Linked DNA regions of Homo sapiens. The protein of the gene in region 1 purifies or fractionates together with the protein of each later gene. This does not show direct contact. Each region holds a gene or a part of one and is shown in the gene's direction. Other genes may lie near its edges.

Evidence for each region.
Region 2: the proteins of SLCO4A1 (region 1) and NFXL1 purify together in Homo sapiens (affinity purification with mass spectrometry; one large-scale study listed by BioGRID and IntAct). This does not show direct contact.
Region 3: the proteins of SLCO4A1 (region 1) and ACADSB purify together in Homo sapiens (affinity purification with mass spectrometry; one large-scale study listed by BioGRID and IntAct). This does not show direct contact.
Region 4: the proteins of SLCO4A1 (region 1) and OCLN purify together in Homo sapiens (affinity purification with mass spectrometry; one large-scale study listed by BioGRID and IntAct). This does not show direct contact.

The regions. Positions count from the first base shown.
Region 1 is NC_000020.11:62,655,233-62,660,232, forward strand, and holds part of SLCO4A1 (solute carrier organic anion transporter family member 4A1), read left to right. Parts: intron 1-1,126; 5' UTR 1,127-1,222; coding exon 1,223-2,018; intron 2,019-3,444; coding exon 3,445-3,535; intron 3,536-5,000. UniProt on the Homo sapiens protein: Organic anion antiporter with apparent broad substrate specificity.
Region 2 is NC_000004.12:47,852,084-47,855,583, reverse strand, and holds part of NFXL1 (NF-X1-type zinc finger protein NFXL1), read left to right. Parts: intron 1-420; coding exon 421-525; intron 526-3,500.
Region 3 is NC_000010.11:123,050,506-123,054,005, forward strand, and holds part of ACADSB (short/branched chain specific acyl-CoA dehydrogenase, mitochondrial isoform 1 precursor), read left to right. Parts: intron 1-543; coding exon 544-681; intron 682-2,555; coding exon 2,556-2,655; intron 2,656-3,189; coding exon 3,190-3,260; 3' UTR 3,261-3,500. UniProt on the Homo sapiens protein: Short and branched chain specific acyl-CoA dehydrogenase that catalyzes the removal of one hydrogen from C-2 and C-3 of the fatty acyl-CoA thioester, resulting in the formation of trans-2-enoyl-CoA.
Region 4 is NC_000005.10:69,499,290-69,502,789, forward strand, and holds part of OCLN (occludin), read left to right. Parts: intron 1-3,500. UniProt on the Homo sapiens protein: May play a role in the formation and regulation of the tight junction (TJ) paracellular permeability barrier.

The DNA.
Region 1 (5,000 bases):
CGGGAAGGACCCTCCCAGGGTGGGGGCGGCACAGGTGTTCTGTATCACAGCAGCCCCGGGAAGGACCCTCCCAGGGTGGGGGCGGCACAGGTGTTCTGTATCACAGCAGCCCCGGGAAGGACCCTCCCAGGGCGGGGGCGGCACAGGTGTTCCGCATCATAGCAGCCCTGTTTATTCGCCGGTTTATTTCTGACGGGGAAAGCCCTTAAGATGCAGAGAGGCTACAGCCACCTGGGTTCCCCAGAAGGCCTTGGGCAGTAGGGGGGAGCTGTTGCTCCAGGAATTGGTGTGGGGAGTGAGGCGGTGCCCTGTGGAGCCTCGGGATGGTGGGGAACAGGGCTGGTGAGGGCAGTGGGGCAGGGGCAGCGCAGGGTTCAGAAGGAAGGTGGCACGTGGGCACGTTCTCCTGGTAACTGGTCTACATGGCTGCCGACTGCAACTCCTGTTAGCCACAGGCTGACCCAGCAGCGGCCGGAGCTTGGCGGCCGGGGGTGTTTCCGGTGCTGGGGGCTCACGTGGCCCAGGAGGCTGCTTCCAGCTCATTCCTGCACCTCCCAAACTCTGCACGGAGAGGAGCTCCTTCCTCACGCCAAAGGGTGCAGAGAGCTGCCGGGTGTGAACTTAAGGAAGAACAAGGTCAGGCTCCAGGACCAAGGTGGAGTCCATCAGGGCCACTTGGCTGCAAATGGCAGGGGACGTGGCTGACACAGCGAGCGGGGCCAGGGCGGGGTGACCTGGGACCCCAGTGTCTGACTCGGCCTCTGCGTCTCAGCTCCACTCTCCACCGCGTGGCCCCATCTCAGTAGGCCTTGCCCCCGTCACAGCCCTGACGCCACACCGCTGAAGCGGCAGCTTCTCCTTCCAACAGTTCTAAAAAGGGCAGGAATTGAGTCCCTGTGAGCAAGCTGGGCACAGCCCCCCACCTTTCCGCAGCGGAGCTGTGGCTGGGAGACACAGTGCCTGGGTGTGGGCCTGGCCAGACGCCACCCTGGATTTGGGAGGCTCTTGAGACAAGGCAGGCAGAGCTTTGAGCCACCCCCGTGATGGGTGTGCTGGAATGTTCCCTCCTGGATGTGCTGTACCCGTGGAGAGACGTGAGCTTGCTAACCAGACATTCTTCTCACAGGACACACCAGCCCCTCGGATACCACTTGGCCACTCCCGCTGAGGCCACTCCCACTGCGTGGCTGAAGCCTCGAGGTCACCAGGCGGAGGCGCGGAGATGCCCCTGCATCAGCTGGGGGACAAGCCGCTCACCTTCCCCAGCCCCAACTCAGCCATGGAAAACGGGCTTGACCACACCCCACCCAGCAGGAGGGCATCCCCGGGCACACCCCTGAGCCCCGGCTCCCTCCGCTCCGCTGCCCATAGCCCCCTGGACACCAGCAAGCAGCCCCTCTGCCAGCTCTGGGCCGAGAAGCATGGCGCCCGGGGGACCCATGAGGTGCGGTACGTCTCGGCCGGGCAGAGCGTGGCGTGCGGCTGGTGGGCCTTCGCACCGCCGTGCCTGCAGGTCCTCAACACGCCCAAGGGCATCCTGTTCTTCCTGTGTGCGGCCGCATTCCTGCAGGGGATGACTGTGAATGGCTTCATCAACACAGTCATCACCTCCCTGGAGCGCCGCTATGACCTGCACAGCTACCAGAGCGGGCTCATCGCCAGCTCCTACGACATTGCCGCCTGCCTCTGCCTCACCTTCGTCAGCTACTTCGGGGGCTCAGGGCACAAGCCGCGCTGGCTGGGCTGGGGCGTGCTGCTTATGGGCACGGGGTCGCTGGTGTTCGCGCTGCCCCACTTCACGGCTGGCCGCTATGAGGTGGAGTTGGACGCGGGTGTCAGGACGTGCCCTGCCAACCCCGGCGCGGTGTGTGCGGACAGCACCTCGGGCCTGTCCCGCTACCAGCTGGTCTTCATGCTGGGCCAGTTCCTGCATGGCGTGGGTGCCACACCCCTCTACACGCTGGGCGTCACCTACCTGGATGAGAACGTCAAGTCCAGCTGCTCGCCCGTCTACATTGGTGAGTGGGGCTGGCGGGGTAAGTGCTGGCAGGGGTGGCTGAGGGCAGTGTTGCAGGAGTGAGGGTAACTGGCCGGAGCCAGCCCCGCCCCCTGCCTTCGTGTACCCCTTGTCTGCATGGCCCTGGGGCTGCTGCAAGAGTTGGCAGGGGAGGAGGGTCCGCCCTGAGGCCCAAAGCTGATGTAAGGGACTCCGGCTTTCTCATGTGGACCCTGCTCAGGGCTCCAGGCCGCTGTGCCCGGGAGCCTCAGTGCAACCCCTGCGTGGTGTCCAGCCCACCTTGCCAGGACCAAGGGGCACAGTCACTAGGCGCTGGGTGGCACCAGGTCCAATGGCGGCAGACCTCATGCTCCGGCTGGGAACCTGGCACTTGCCTGGGAAGGAGTTTGATGTGGGATAAGTGACGAGGGACAGAGCCCCAAGGCCACACCCATGTTTCCCTGAAAGCACCATGTTGGCTCCATCAGCCACATAGAGGTGGAGGGACAGAGCCCTGAGACCACACCCACGTCTGCCCGTAAGCACCGTGTCTGCTCCGGCAGCCACATAGGGGTGTGGAAAAGACCGAGCAAATCTGGAGAGTCAGAACTTTAAGGGGAAAAATAACATGAAGCAGCTCATGGCTGCTTCACAGCTATCTAAGAGTAAAGATCTATGTTATAACTCTATGCTAGGCAGCTGAGCTCACTGCCCTGGGGCAGCCCTGGGCCCCTCACTGGCTTCCTGCTCCTGTTTGTTGAGATGTAGGGAAGCCCCATGGCCCGTCCGACATGGCCGAGTTGACCCAGTGCACGGCCCGCCTGACCCCACTTCTCGGCGTCCCCCTGCCTGGCTTGGCTCTCCCGGGAAGGGCATCGTAGGATGGTCACGGGGAGCAGCTGGCCCCAGCCGGACTCTGCAGTGACCTCAGCCTCCTCATGTCCTCCTTGAGCTCTGCTCATCCCAGTCACCTGGCAGTGCTCGTCCCAAGAACCCAGGCGGGTGTTGAGATCACCTCACTCCAGCGAGGGGACGTCCCACCACACCGAGCCTTCCAAATCCCGGCCTGTGGGAGAGTGAGCGTGGCTGGGCGGAGGGGCTCAGGCCTCTCTGGTCCCTTTCCCCACCCTGGGCCCCTAATTCCTGCCAGTGTCCATCTGTGCGGCTACTTAGACGCCCTGCAAACGGGGCTTCGAGGGCCTTTGCCCTTTCGTAAGGGAAAGACAGTGCACTTGGCTTTGAGGGGGATTTTTAAAGATTGATGCTGACCCATATCAGGCCCAGTGGCAACTGCACAGACTCATCTAACTTAAAGAGGCCCATGAGGGGAGTGGGCCGGAGATGCAGAATGGCGGGTGCGGGGCTTCTCCCAGGCACGGGGCCCCACACGGCCCTCCGCAGCCCCTGGGTGGTGCACAGCGGCCCTGACGCCTCTGCCTCTCTCGCAGCCATCTTCTACACAGCGGCCATCCTGGGCCCAGCTGCCGGCTACCTGATTGGAGGTGCCCTGCTGAATATCTACACGGAAATGGGCCGACGGTGAGTGGCCGCGCACCCAGCTGCCTGCGCTGGAGAGGCCCACGTGTCTCTGGAAGGGGGTTCAGAGTCAGCAGGGCCCACTCTGAGTCAGGCCGGGCGCGGCGCAGGTGCTGGGCACCCCCCGGGCTGGAGGGAGTCAAGGCTGGCCTTGGCTCTGGAGGACTCGGAGGATCTGTAGGGGCCTTGGGAGTCGGCCCCAGGGCAGGAGGCAGGGCAGGCAGGCAGTGCCCGAGGCCTAAGCGCTTGCAAAGCCCAGCGAGCCCTGGCCACTAGTTCCCTAATGAAACTGAGATTTTTCTGTTTCTTTTCCTTTCTTTGTATCTTGTGTGTGTGACCCTAGTTTCTGTAAATGTAAGCAGGAGAAAGCAAGGAGGGGTGGAGGGAGAGGCAGAGAGAGACAGAGGGAAAGACACGTAGAGACAGACCAATTCACAGAGACAGATGGAGATAGAGATACAGAGGGACAGAAAGAAGACAGCGACAGGCAGAGAGAGACAGAGACAGATGGAGATGGGGAGGCAGAGGAGACATGTCCTTGCTGACCGCCAGTGCTCTGTGGGTTTGGGCCCCCCATTCATCCCTTGCCCATCCTGCACTTGTGAAGTTTCCAAGGTCCTCTGTTACTCGGCCTGGGCACCGCTGCACCTTGGGACTCTTTCTGCAGATGGCGCCTCTCCTGGAGGTCTCTAGCACTCTGACCTCTTACAAAAGCCCCTCTGGCCTCGGATTGATAATGTGGGGTCAAGTGTGTGCGTTCTGGGCAGAGCCTGGAGGTAGGCTGGAGCTCGTGTCCCGGGTCTGGATGCTTCTCTCAGTCTCTGTGCCCCTTCTGGCTCCGGGATCTGGGCCCACTTTGCACAAAGTGGGGAGGCAGAGCGGGGTCTGGCCCCCGGAGGCGGCCGCAGCATTTCTGCGCTGGAGCAAGCAGGTGCCGCCTGGCTGCAGCCTTGCAGGGTGTTGGCGCTCCCTGTGTCCTCTGTCTGTCTCTGCGGCTCTGCTCCCGGCCTTTGCTGGCCTTTTGCCCTCCCGCCGCTGCCTCACTGTGAAGACACATCCCCGAAAGCCCAGAGCTTGTCCTCACTGTGAAGACGCGTCCCTGGATGCCCAGAGCTTGGATGGGCTTCTACCACTCCACGGCCGCCTCAGCCCATGGTTATTTTCCACTCGCCTTTTCGTTTGAAAGCACTTATGTGCAAATTGCCACGTGCACAACAGTCCCTTCGTGGGGAGCTCTCAGTGAGCTCCAGCTGAGCCCTCTGGCGTCCCTGGGAACCCCATCTGTCATCCTCTGCACTGTGGGGAGGGATGCCTCCTCCCGCTGTTGCCTGGAGAGGCTGCTCCTCTTAGTGCCCAACCCCACCGTGGTCTCAGGACCAGGCCACAGGTGGCATCTCCAGCCCTGGAGCGTGGGCCAAGGCATGGAGCCATCTGTCTTGGGGGACAGCTAAGCCAAGGTGGTGTTTGC
Region 2 (3,500 bases), on another chromosome or scaffold:
CATATGGTTTCCATTACCGCTCCAGCTTTCATCATATCCAGGACATGGGGAAGAGAAGAACATGGAAGTATACTCTTGAAATGATCTGAAGCATGAATCACCTGTACTTGCTTACATTCCATTGACCAGAACTCAGTTATATGGCTATAACTAGCTACAAGGGTGGCTGTAAGATGTACTGTTGGAATGGAGCTGGGGAGAATAATTAAATATAATTAAATTATATATATATAATTAAATTATATAAGTGTAATTAAAATAATTTATATCTAAAAGAAAAATAGTTTACAAATTATCCCATTAGCTAGGATTGATTGACCCTTTGTGTGATGGACTCTCTTAAAATTGTTGGGGTATGGGGGAAACTAGAGTATGATCAAGATGTAAGTATGTAATTGCTTTATTTTGATTTTATTTTAGCTTCCTTGTGGTCATAGATGCAAAGAGATGTGTCATCCTGGTGAATGTCCCTTTAACTGCAACCAGAAGGTAAAACTTAGATGTCCTTGTAAAAGAATAAAAAAGGTAAATATTTTAAGTTATTGAAAATACTTTTCTATATAAGTTGTTTTTGTGTGGTTTTCTTGTTCTTGTTTTTTGATCTATGTGTTTTGGTAGTTGTTTGGCTTTTTTTTTTTTTTTTGCCTTTTAATTTTGAGGTTTTACTTCATAGAACTTTTTTATTATTGAAATGAGCCTACTAGTTCTTTAAACATTTATTTTAAACATAAGCTTTGGCGATTTAATTTTCTGCAATTTAACAGTAAAAGGAAAATTATTTTTTATGTTGGAACCAAATTCAATGCCCTGTTTTGGTCAATGTGCTTTAGATTTGAGGTCTTTGAACAAGGAACACAATGTAACGGGTAGAATGTTTCATTGCTTAAGAAATGGCTTGAGATTAACTTTGTTGCTGTTATTTATGAAATTCTTTTTACCATCAGTATTGTCCTTTGAAAATATTGCCTTAAAAAGACCTCATATGAATAGCCTTATAAAGTAAAATAACATGTAAACTTGGAAAGAACTAATTTTAAGATAAAATGATGGTAACAGAGGAGTAAATGGGCAAAAACTAATGATTACAAAGCCTGATGGAAACAAACTATATACTGCTCAACAAAACTTATGAAGGAAAATATACTGTCCTAATAGTCTTTTTCTCAATTCTCTGTTTCCTTGATCTTCCCTGTTGGCAGTGCTTACTCCTTTGAAACCAACTTTTTTGACCTCTGATTTACCCTATCTCAGTTATAGTCGTAACTCCTTTTTTTTCCTTCATATTCCTATTGTCATTCCCTAAAGCTTGTCTTTTTTGTCTCTTGAAATTCGCTTTTATTCATCCATGTGATGGATATGTATTGAGGATCTTTTATAGGTCCTTTGCCTTTCATTTATGTTCATAGTTTCTGATATGTTTTCCTAGGATAGGGAACTTCTGAATTTAAATTTATACACTTGGCCTTTTAGGGAGTGGAATCTTTAAGTTTTAGATATTTAAATTGACCCCCTGTACCTGAAAATAAATACTTGGTCAAGCCATTTTTAATGTGAGATGTCTCTTAAGTTTTCTCTGAAATCTCATGTCTTGTCCAAGTGCCATATGCCACCCACCCGTTAGTACTTTGGAACAACTCTTTTCTGGGCTTTGGCCACAACTTCGTGACCCATTTCCTTGTCTCTAGTCACACCACTTCCCTGTTCTAAATTCTTCAATGGCTCTTCATCACTTATGGAAAAAGTGCATTGTATAAAAAATGTGTATGTGTAGGTATATGCAGACTCGGCATACCAGGGAGGCTATGATAAGACATTTGCCTGCTTGTTCAGTCTCGTCATCTAGCAATCATCTCTGTGAATCTGTTACTTAAGTGCCCTAATACATATATTGTACCCTCGCTTAGCTTAGGCTGTGGCAATGTATATATATTTTTTTCCTGTGTAAAATACAATATGTTTTTCCTTTAGCTCTCTGCTTACTAGAATCCTGCTAATACTTATTGGAAGCACTTCCTTGTTTGAGAAGGTTTTCCTTCCCCAGGTTCCCTTGGGAAGGCTTAGCTGTTCCTTCCTCTTGACTTTCTTTGTACTGGGTTCATAATGTAGAGCTTTGTGATTCTAGGTATCTGTAACCTTGTTTCCTCATCTGTAAAATAGAGTTTATAGAGATTTATTGAAAGGAATAAAAGAGGTAGTGCTTACATAGCATTTAAAACAATGCTATGTTTAATAAATAGTAGCTGCCATTACTATAAAAGAGGTAGTGCTTACATAGCATTTAAAACAATGCTATGTGTAATAAATAGTAGCTGCAATTACTATTGTTATTTATTTAGCACTTAACAGATGATTATACTGTTTATTTCTTACTGTGTTCCATTTCCCTGTCATGGTGTTTAGCATGTTATAGGCACTCTGTAAGTATCCTCTGAATGAGAAAAGATAAAATCCTCTTCTAAGCTGATGGACTTAATGTCTATAAACACACGATACTTATTTTTGTCTCCAGTGTTTGTTCATGTTAATTTTCTTATGTCTGGACTGTCTTTGGAGGACAAGACTATGTTTATCACTAAATCAAGCCAAAAATGAAGAACTAAGGAATAAAAAAAAAAAAACCCTCCAAGTAATAAAATTCCATGCCATAAAATGCTTTTACTAAATGCACTTTACTCAGGATTTGGTAATCTCATGTCTAAGCTGTGGTAGATTTGAACAAAAAACTAGAGTCTGAGGGTCTGGTGAGACAGGAGAAACTGATACAAATTAAATATACTGAGAGTAAAAGTGACATTGGCAGCAATAAATGAATGAATAAAAGATAGATGTACTACAAAAGGCAGTCTAAAACTAATATAAAGACCACTCTTCAACTCAGTAGGTCATCGTTTTATTCTGTCGTAGTACAGAAATTGGTCATAGTTTTGATGTCAAGACATCAAAAACAGTAGATCAGTGTTCTTTCATTAAGGAGGTAGTGAAGTGCCAACATAAGCTTTAGAACAATTTTCATCTAAACTTAAAAAAAGTTTAACAGTCGAGAGAAAAATTTGTAGCTCCCCAGAAAACTCTCTAGAGCTGCACTATCTGAGATGGTAGCCACTAGTCACATGTGGATATTTAAATGCAAATTGTAATGAATTAGCATAAAACAGTATTAAAAATTTGGTTCCTCATTTTCACTACCCACATTTCAAGTGCTCAGTAGCCATATGTGGCTAGTGCTACTCTGTGGACTAATGCAGATTTACAACATTCCATCCCACGCACATACCAGGAAGCTCTGTTGGACAGCACATTTGTAGAACATTGTATTCCCTGGACACTTTGCAAGAATAACAAACAATAAAGAAAAGTAAAGAATAAAAACAACATGGGAGCTAAGTCCAATAGTGGCACATAGTAATTATTAAGTTGATTTTTAAAAATTTTATGGTATTCTCTTTTTTAAGTTAAGAGAAAATAAGCAAGTAATCACTATTTGAAGCAGATATTTAATG
Region 3 (3,500 bases), on another chromosome or scaffold:
TGTTGTTTCTTTCATTGGCAAACATTTAGTATGGACCTAATCACCCTCTAAAATTTCAGGGTGGTAGTAATTGGTGCTTCAAATATTCTTCATTACTTTGTAGCTAACATTTTTTAATGCCTGGAAGCCATATGAAAAATCAAAATTTTCTTAACTCAAGCAAATAAAGAATATATTCAAAGTTTTGCTGTGCCAGGATTTCATTTAAGCTCAATTTTGATCAAAAGAGAGTTGAAATAATTATTAAATATAACAGTCAAGTTTTTAAACCTAACTTTGTTATACTTTACTATTTAAATCTTGAAAATCATGAAGACTTACATGAACTTTGAAGTTTTTCTAGGAAAAGAGGATTTAACAATACTTATAGTGTCACATTTCATTTTAGATTACTCATTTTAAAGTATTTAAAAGACGTGAATGTAAATTTCCTTTGGGGTGTATTTTGAGTCTGTCAGTGTTGTGTATCTAGGCAGGACTTTGAGGTTGAGGTGCTTGCTTTTTTGAAATCATAATTCTCTAACTTGGGCCTGACTGTTACAGGGCCTCCAACACCAAGTGGCTCACGTGGCCACCCAGCTGGAAGCTGCAAGATTACTAACATACAATGCTGCTAGGCTTTTAGAAGCTGGAAAGCCATTCATAAAAGAAGCGTCAATGGCCAAATACTATGCATCAGAGGTAAAAAAAAAAAAAAAAAAAAAAAAGGAAAAAGTAATTCAGCCTTTTTTTTTTCAGATATATACTTATTAACATTTTCTCTTGGGAATGTTGATTGTACTTTGGTTGTTTTTCAAGTTAAGATAACATGGACTTTTATTTCTTATAATAGAAAAGCAAAAAAGGAAAACTGCCATAGGAAAACACTTGAATTCTGTGAGGTCTCAATGTTTCGTTGAGTAGCCCAGCTCAGCTAGACCACCCATCTCAAACTGCCATAGGAAAACCTTCAGTTCTGTGAGGTCTCCATGTTTCGTGAGTAGCCCAGCTCAGATAGACCACCCATCTCAAATCCATGGCTGAGCCTCCTCTGAATGAGGGTGTCATGCCTATGGTGTCAAGTTCGGGCAAAGTGAATGCCGTGGAAGATGATGGGTCCATCATGTGAACAAATCAGATTTAAAACACCAAGAAAAGATTGTCTAAAACTTTCTACTCATACATTTGCTTTCTAGAGCTAACACATTAGACTGAGGCTAGAGAATTTAGCCAAATCACTGGGCAGCTGTTTCGTAGCCTCAGCAGTATCTTATTCATTCCATGGCTTTAAATTCTCATTTAACCTCTCCAGCCCATAAATTAAATATCCTACCTCAACTTCTTTCTGAATTCCAGACTAACATGTCCAACTTCTGCTTCACCATCAGAACCTGAGCGTCATCTTGGCACCCTGCTTTCCCTCACCCCCCACATTGAGTCCAGCATCATTTCCTATGATTCTACCCCTAAAAGATTCCTTAAATGGTGTGTTTGTCTCCCTCTCCACTGCCACCTCTGTACTTCAGTCACCTCACTGCCCTCCTGGTCCCTGGTGCTTCCTCCCATCCAGCCTCTCTCCTTTTTCAAAGTGGCAGTGAGGCCATGTCACCTTCCAGCTTTAACCCTTCAGTGGCTTCTCACAACAAATGGAGCTCTATCTGTACTAGATTCCAATTGCTGCTATAACAAATTACCAAAAAGTCGGGGACCTAAAACAACGCAGTTTCATTTTCTGTCACTTCTAGAGGTCAGAAATCTGAAATGGGTCTCACTGGAATACAGGGGCTGCCTTTCTGTGGTTCTGGCAGACAGTTGTTTCCAGCTTCTAGGGGCTGCTCACATTCCTTGACTCGTAGCCCCTTCCTCCATCTTCAAAGCCAACAATGTGGCATGTTCAGATCTCTCTCTGACTCTGCTTCCTGTCTCCATGGTCACGTCACCTTCCATGACTAACTCTCCTGCCTCCTCCTTTTCCTTATAAGGATCCCTGTGATTATATCACAGCCACCCAGATAATTCAGGGTAATCTCTCCATCTCGTGTCCTTACCCACATCTGCAGAGTCCCTATTGCCATGGAAGGCAGCATATTCACAGCTCTGAGGGCTAGGATGTGGACGTCCTTGAGGGGCCATTCTGCAGGGTCTCTCGCTCCTCCATTCTCTTTTCACATTTCACCCCGATCCCAGCCCACTGGCTGTCTCAGGGGCTGGAAGTTGAAGAGCTCATTCTCCCCTTGGAGGATTTCGACGTGTTGGTCCTCAGCTTGAAATGTCCCTTAGCTCGTCCGTTAGGCCCCCAGTAAACATTTCCTGAATAAATGATATCTCTCAGCATGCAGATTCATGTGAACAATGCTCTAATTTCTTAAGAAAATGGGGATTCTGTGAATTAATAGGATGTTTTACAGAAATGGTATGGAGAATGGGACTGAAGAGACAATGCTAGTTTAGAAGATAACTTTAGTCCTTCCAGTGCCACTAACAGTAAATCCATGTTGCTGAAAATGTTACCCAGAAGTGTTTATCATGTATAAGTTATGTGGTTTCAGTGTGTGATTTGCACTTGCTTTTGGTAGATTGCAGGACAAACAACGAGTAAATGTATCGAGTGGATGGGGGGAGTAGGCTACACCAAAGATTACCCTGTGGAGAAATACTTCCGAGATGCAAAGATTGGTAAATAGATTTTTTTTTTTTACATTTTATTTTGTTTTATTTGCCTCTGTAGGTATTTTGGCTGTTTTATTTGTCGTTTTTTTCCTAGGTAAAAGCAATTTTAATTTCTTCAGTATATGTTTGGTGGCTCTATTTATGTGGCTGGATTTTTTTCTTACCTCGTCCTTCAAAAAAAATTGTTCTATATTTTTAAAAAATATCAAATTGCCTTTTTAAATGCCTCAACAGGCTTTTTAGTAAAACTGCCACAAATAACAGTCTGAGCTTATGCATCAATTGTTGAAGAATCAAAATCTTCAACTTTTGTTTACACCTTTAGTCAGTTTAATACTGATCCTGGACATCGAGAAACCAAATGGAAAATTGTCATCTCTTAGTCAAAATTACTGTGAAATAGTACCATATTCAGGGGACATGAAGTGATGTGACTAGTAACTGTTTTATAGCAAGCGCAGAGGTGATGTTTATAGAGCTATTTCTTGTCTTAACCATGCGCCAACTCCTCATTGTTCCTTCTGCTTCCTTTTGCTTAAGGTACGATATATGAAGGAGCTTCCAACATCCAGTTGAACACCATTGCAAAGCATATCGATGCAGAATACTGACGTCTATAGGAGTGGGACCCCTCCCTGGTGTCACTGCTGTAAAATTTTAAACGGTTGTGTCTTGTTGGGAGTAAGTGCCTTGCGTGGGAATAAACTTCCACAGCATTCGAATATTTTAATGAAGCCCTTAGTCAGGGTCCTGGTGTTGGCCTTTTTGGTTTTCTCTTTTCAGGCTGTTTAACTTAGGCACAGGAGATCCACTTTTAAACTTGGGAAATAAGCACCTGTATTTTTTTCCAA
Region 4 (3,500 bases), on another chromosome or scaffold:
GTCTTGGACTCCTGGGTTCAAGTGATCTTCCTGCTTCAGCTTCCTAGAGTGTTGGGATTACAGGTGTGAGCCACTGTACCTGCCCTGTAATTTTTAATTTTTTTTTCCCCTGAATATTTTCTGTCTGAGGTTGGTTGAATCAGAATTTAAAACCCATGGATGTGGAGGGTCAGCTGTATTTGAAAATGGATACAATATACCTAAGTGCCTAAGCACTGAAATTTCTTACTTTCAGGATAACCACCTTATGATGAATGCAGTTGCCCATTTTCTTGAAGACTTTTTCTTGTGGTTTTTTTCTTTCTTTTTTTTTTGAGCCGGAGTCTCGCTCCGTCGCCAGGCTGGAGTGCAGTGGCGTGACCTCAGCTCACTGCAACCTCCTCCTCCTGGATTCAAGCGATTCTCCTGCCTCAGCCTCCTGAGTAGCTGGGGCTACAGGCGCGCGCCACCAAGCCCAGCTAATTTTTGTATTTTTTTAGTAGAGACAGGGTTTCACTATGTTGACCAGGATGGTCTTGATCTCTTGACCTCGTGATCCACCCGCCTCGGCCTCCCAAAGTGCTGGGATCACAGGCGTGAACCACTGCGCCCAGCTCTTTAAGACTTTTTCTTATCCCAGTGCAGAGGTCAGGATTATTCCCGCATTTGAGTGCACTTAGAGGAGATAAGGAATTTGTCTCAGATTGCGAGCCAGTAAATGGGGGCTGTTAAAACCACTAGGTTGTTTCAAACTCATCATTCTGACATTACAGAGATCTTGCTTAGTGTTGATGGCCCTAGCCAATGGGTTAGTTATCCTTTCCAGTGTGTTTGGTCAGCTGCAAATCTGGATAAGCGTGTCTCCTCCACTTTGTCTGTGTTTACCAGTGGAGACCTCCCACCAGGTGGACATAAATGGTTCATTCTTTTGTGCTAATTGGGTGCCGTAATCCAGCCCCTTGGGAATCTGCCCACCCACACAAGGATGTGCTCAAGATTTTCAGGATTCTTTCTCTCTGCATTCCCTGAAGAGGAAATAATAAAGGAGAAAATAAAATCCACCAGTTTGGTAACCTTCCCAGAAAAGGAAATGAAGTTGGTGTGGCATGACTTGTTCTTAACGAGCTTTCTTTTCTTTTTTTTTTTTTTGAGACGGAGTTTTGCTCTTTTTGCCCAGGCTGGAGTGCAATGGCGCAATACTGGCTCACTGCGAACTCCGCCTCCCAGGTTCAAGCAATTCTGCTACCTCAGCCTCCCAAGTAGCTGGGTTTACAGGCATGCACCACCACGCCCCTCTAATTTTTTGTATTTTTAGTAGAGATAGGGTTTCACCACATTGGTCAGCTGGTCTTGAACTCCAGACCTCATGTGATCCACCTGCCTCGGCCTCCCAAAGTGCTGGGATTACAGGCATGAGCCACATGATTTGGTTCACAATTTAAAATCCGTGCTTTTGGGGAGACGTGACAACTCTGAATCCTGGAAATAGCAGTTTGAAAAGGGATCTTGTTTGAATTTTTGACAACTTAAGACTGAGTCTGGATTAATTTAGAGTTTCCAAAACTACCACTGAACCTAGAATTTGGGGATATTTGACATTCAGCTTCAGAACTAGGATCCCACATTTAATAGTGCTTAACTTCAGATTTTCTGTTTTACTTTTTTTTTTTAAAGGAGTCTTGCTCTGTCACCCACGCTGGAGTGCAGTGGCACAATCTTGGCTCACTGCAACCTCCACCTCGGGCTCAAGCGATTCTCATGCCTCAGTTTCTCAAGTAGCTGGGATTACAGGCACGTGCCACCATGCCCAGCTAATTTTTGTATTTTTAGTAGAGACGGGGTTTTGCCATGATGGCCAGGCTGGTCTCGAACTCCTGACCTAGGGTGATCCACCTGTCTCCACCTCCCAAGTGCTGGAATTACAGGTGTGAGCCACCTCACCTGGCCTAAATTCAGTATTCCTTAATGTTCTTTTTCTGAAGACAATCTGGACTTTTGCCTTTTTATAGTACCATAACATTTTCGCCTAAATTGCTCATTTGTATGTGTGTTTCACCATTACTAGAATATAGAGAAATTGGCCAGGTGTATTGGCTCATGCCTGTAATCCCAGTACTTTGGGAGGCCAAGGCAGGTGGATAGCTTGAGCTCAGGGGTTTGAGACCAGCCTGGGCAACATGGTGAAACCTTATCTCTACTAAAAATACAAAAATTAGCCAGGCGTGGTGGCATGTGCCTGTAGTCCAGCTACTTGTGAGGCTGAGGCAGGAGGATTGCTTGAGCCTGGGAGGCAGGTTGTAGTGAGCTGAGATGATGGCACTGCATTTCATCCTGGGCAACAGAATGAGACCTTGTCTCAAAAGAAAAAAAAAAAAAGTATAGAGAAATTGACTTGAGTGCTAGTTACAGGGCTGTGTACACTTATGATTTGTGCACTTTTCTCTATGGTATACTTTAAAAGTGGCTTTTAAAAATGTAGAAAAGTCATCTTCCTTCATGTCTTTGGAAAATTATGCTAATTGTGTTGGTGTTATTAACATTCTATATATTTCCATCTTTGAGGATTTATCTAATACATAGTTGGGCAGGGTTTAATTCTGAGAGATTTGAAATACACTGTCCTAAAGGGTATAGAAGAGAGTTGCCAGGTGGGGCGTGGTGGCTCATGCCTGTAATCCCAGCACTTTGGGAGGCCAAGGAGGGCAGATTGCCTGAGCTCAGGAGTTTGACACCAGACTGTGCAACATGGTGAAACCCCATCTTTACTAAAAATACAAACAATTAGCCGGGCGTGGCAGCGTGCGCCTGTAGTCCCAGCTACTCGGGAGGCTGAGGCAGGAGAATCGCTTGAAGCCGGGAGGCGGAGATTGCAGTGAGCTGAGATCATGCCATTGCATTCCATCCTGGTGACAGAGCGAGACTCGGCTCAAAAAAAAAAAAAAGAGTTGCCATTAATTTAAAAAAAAGTTTTAAGAGTCTGAATTGATGTACTGTTGTTAATATATTAATGTATGATTGTACAGACCGTATTAGAAAAGGAAAAAAAATCAGATACTTTAATGTACTCATTATAGATGTTACTCAAGTGTCATTCAGGGATCATACCTTTTAAAGTTACTCTGATACTTTTCCGTTACCTTCAACTTGAAAGCACAAGAGGTTTTGCAGGCAGAGATATCCATGGTCCAATCTGGTTCCTGTAAACATTCAACAAATTATCTGGACGTCTACTATGTGCCAGGCATTGATTTAATCAGTGAACAAAACATGCAAAAATTCCTGCTCACATGGAATTTACCTTCCAGTAGATCTCAAAGTTCCCTACTCTACTAATCACTGGTATAACCTGGAAAGAATTTATTGTTGGTTCAACATAGCTAAGGAGTGGCATGAAGTTCTGTAGCTGATGTGGGAAGTACCTTGCCAGTGTCTCCAGCACTGGGTTTTCTAGAATAATCCTCAAGCTTTATAGGTTAGGGGGTTGTGTGTTTACCACATCTTGCTGAGACTTGTCTTTTTCC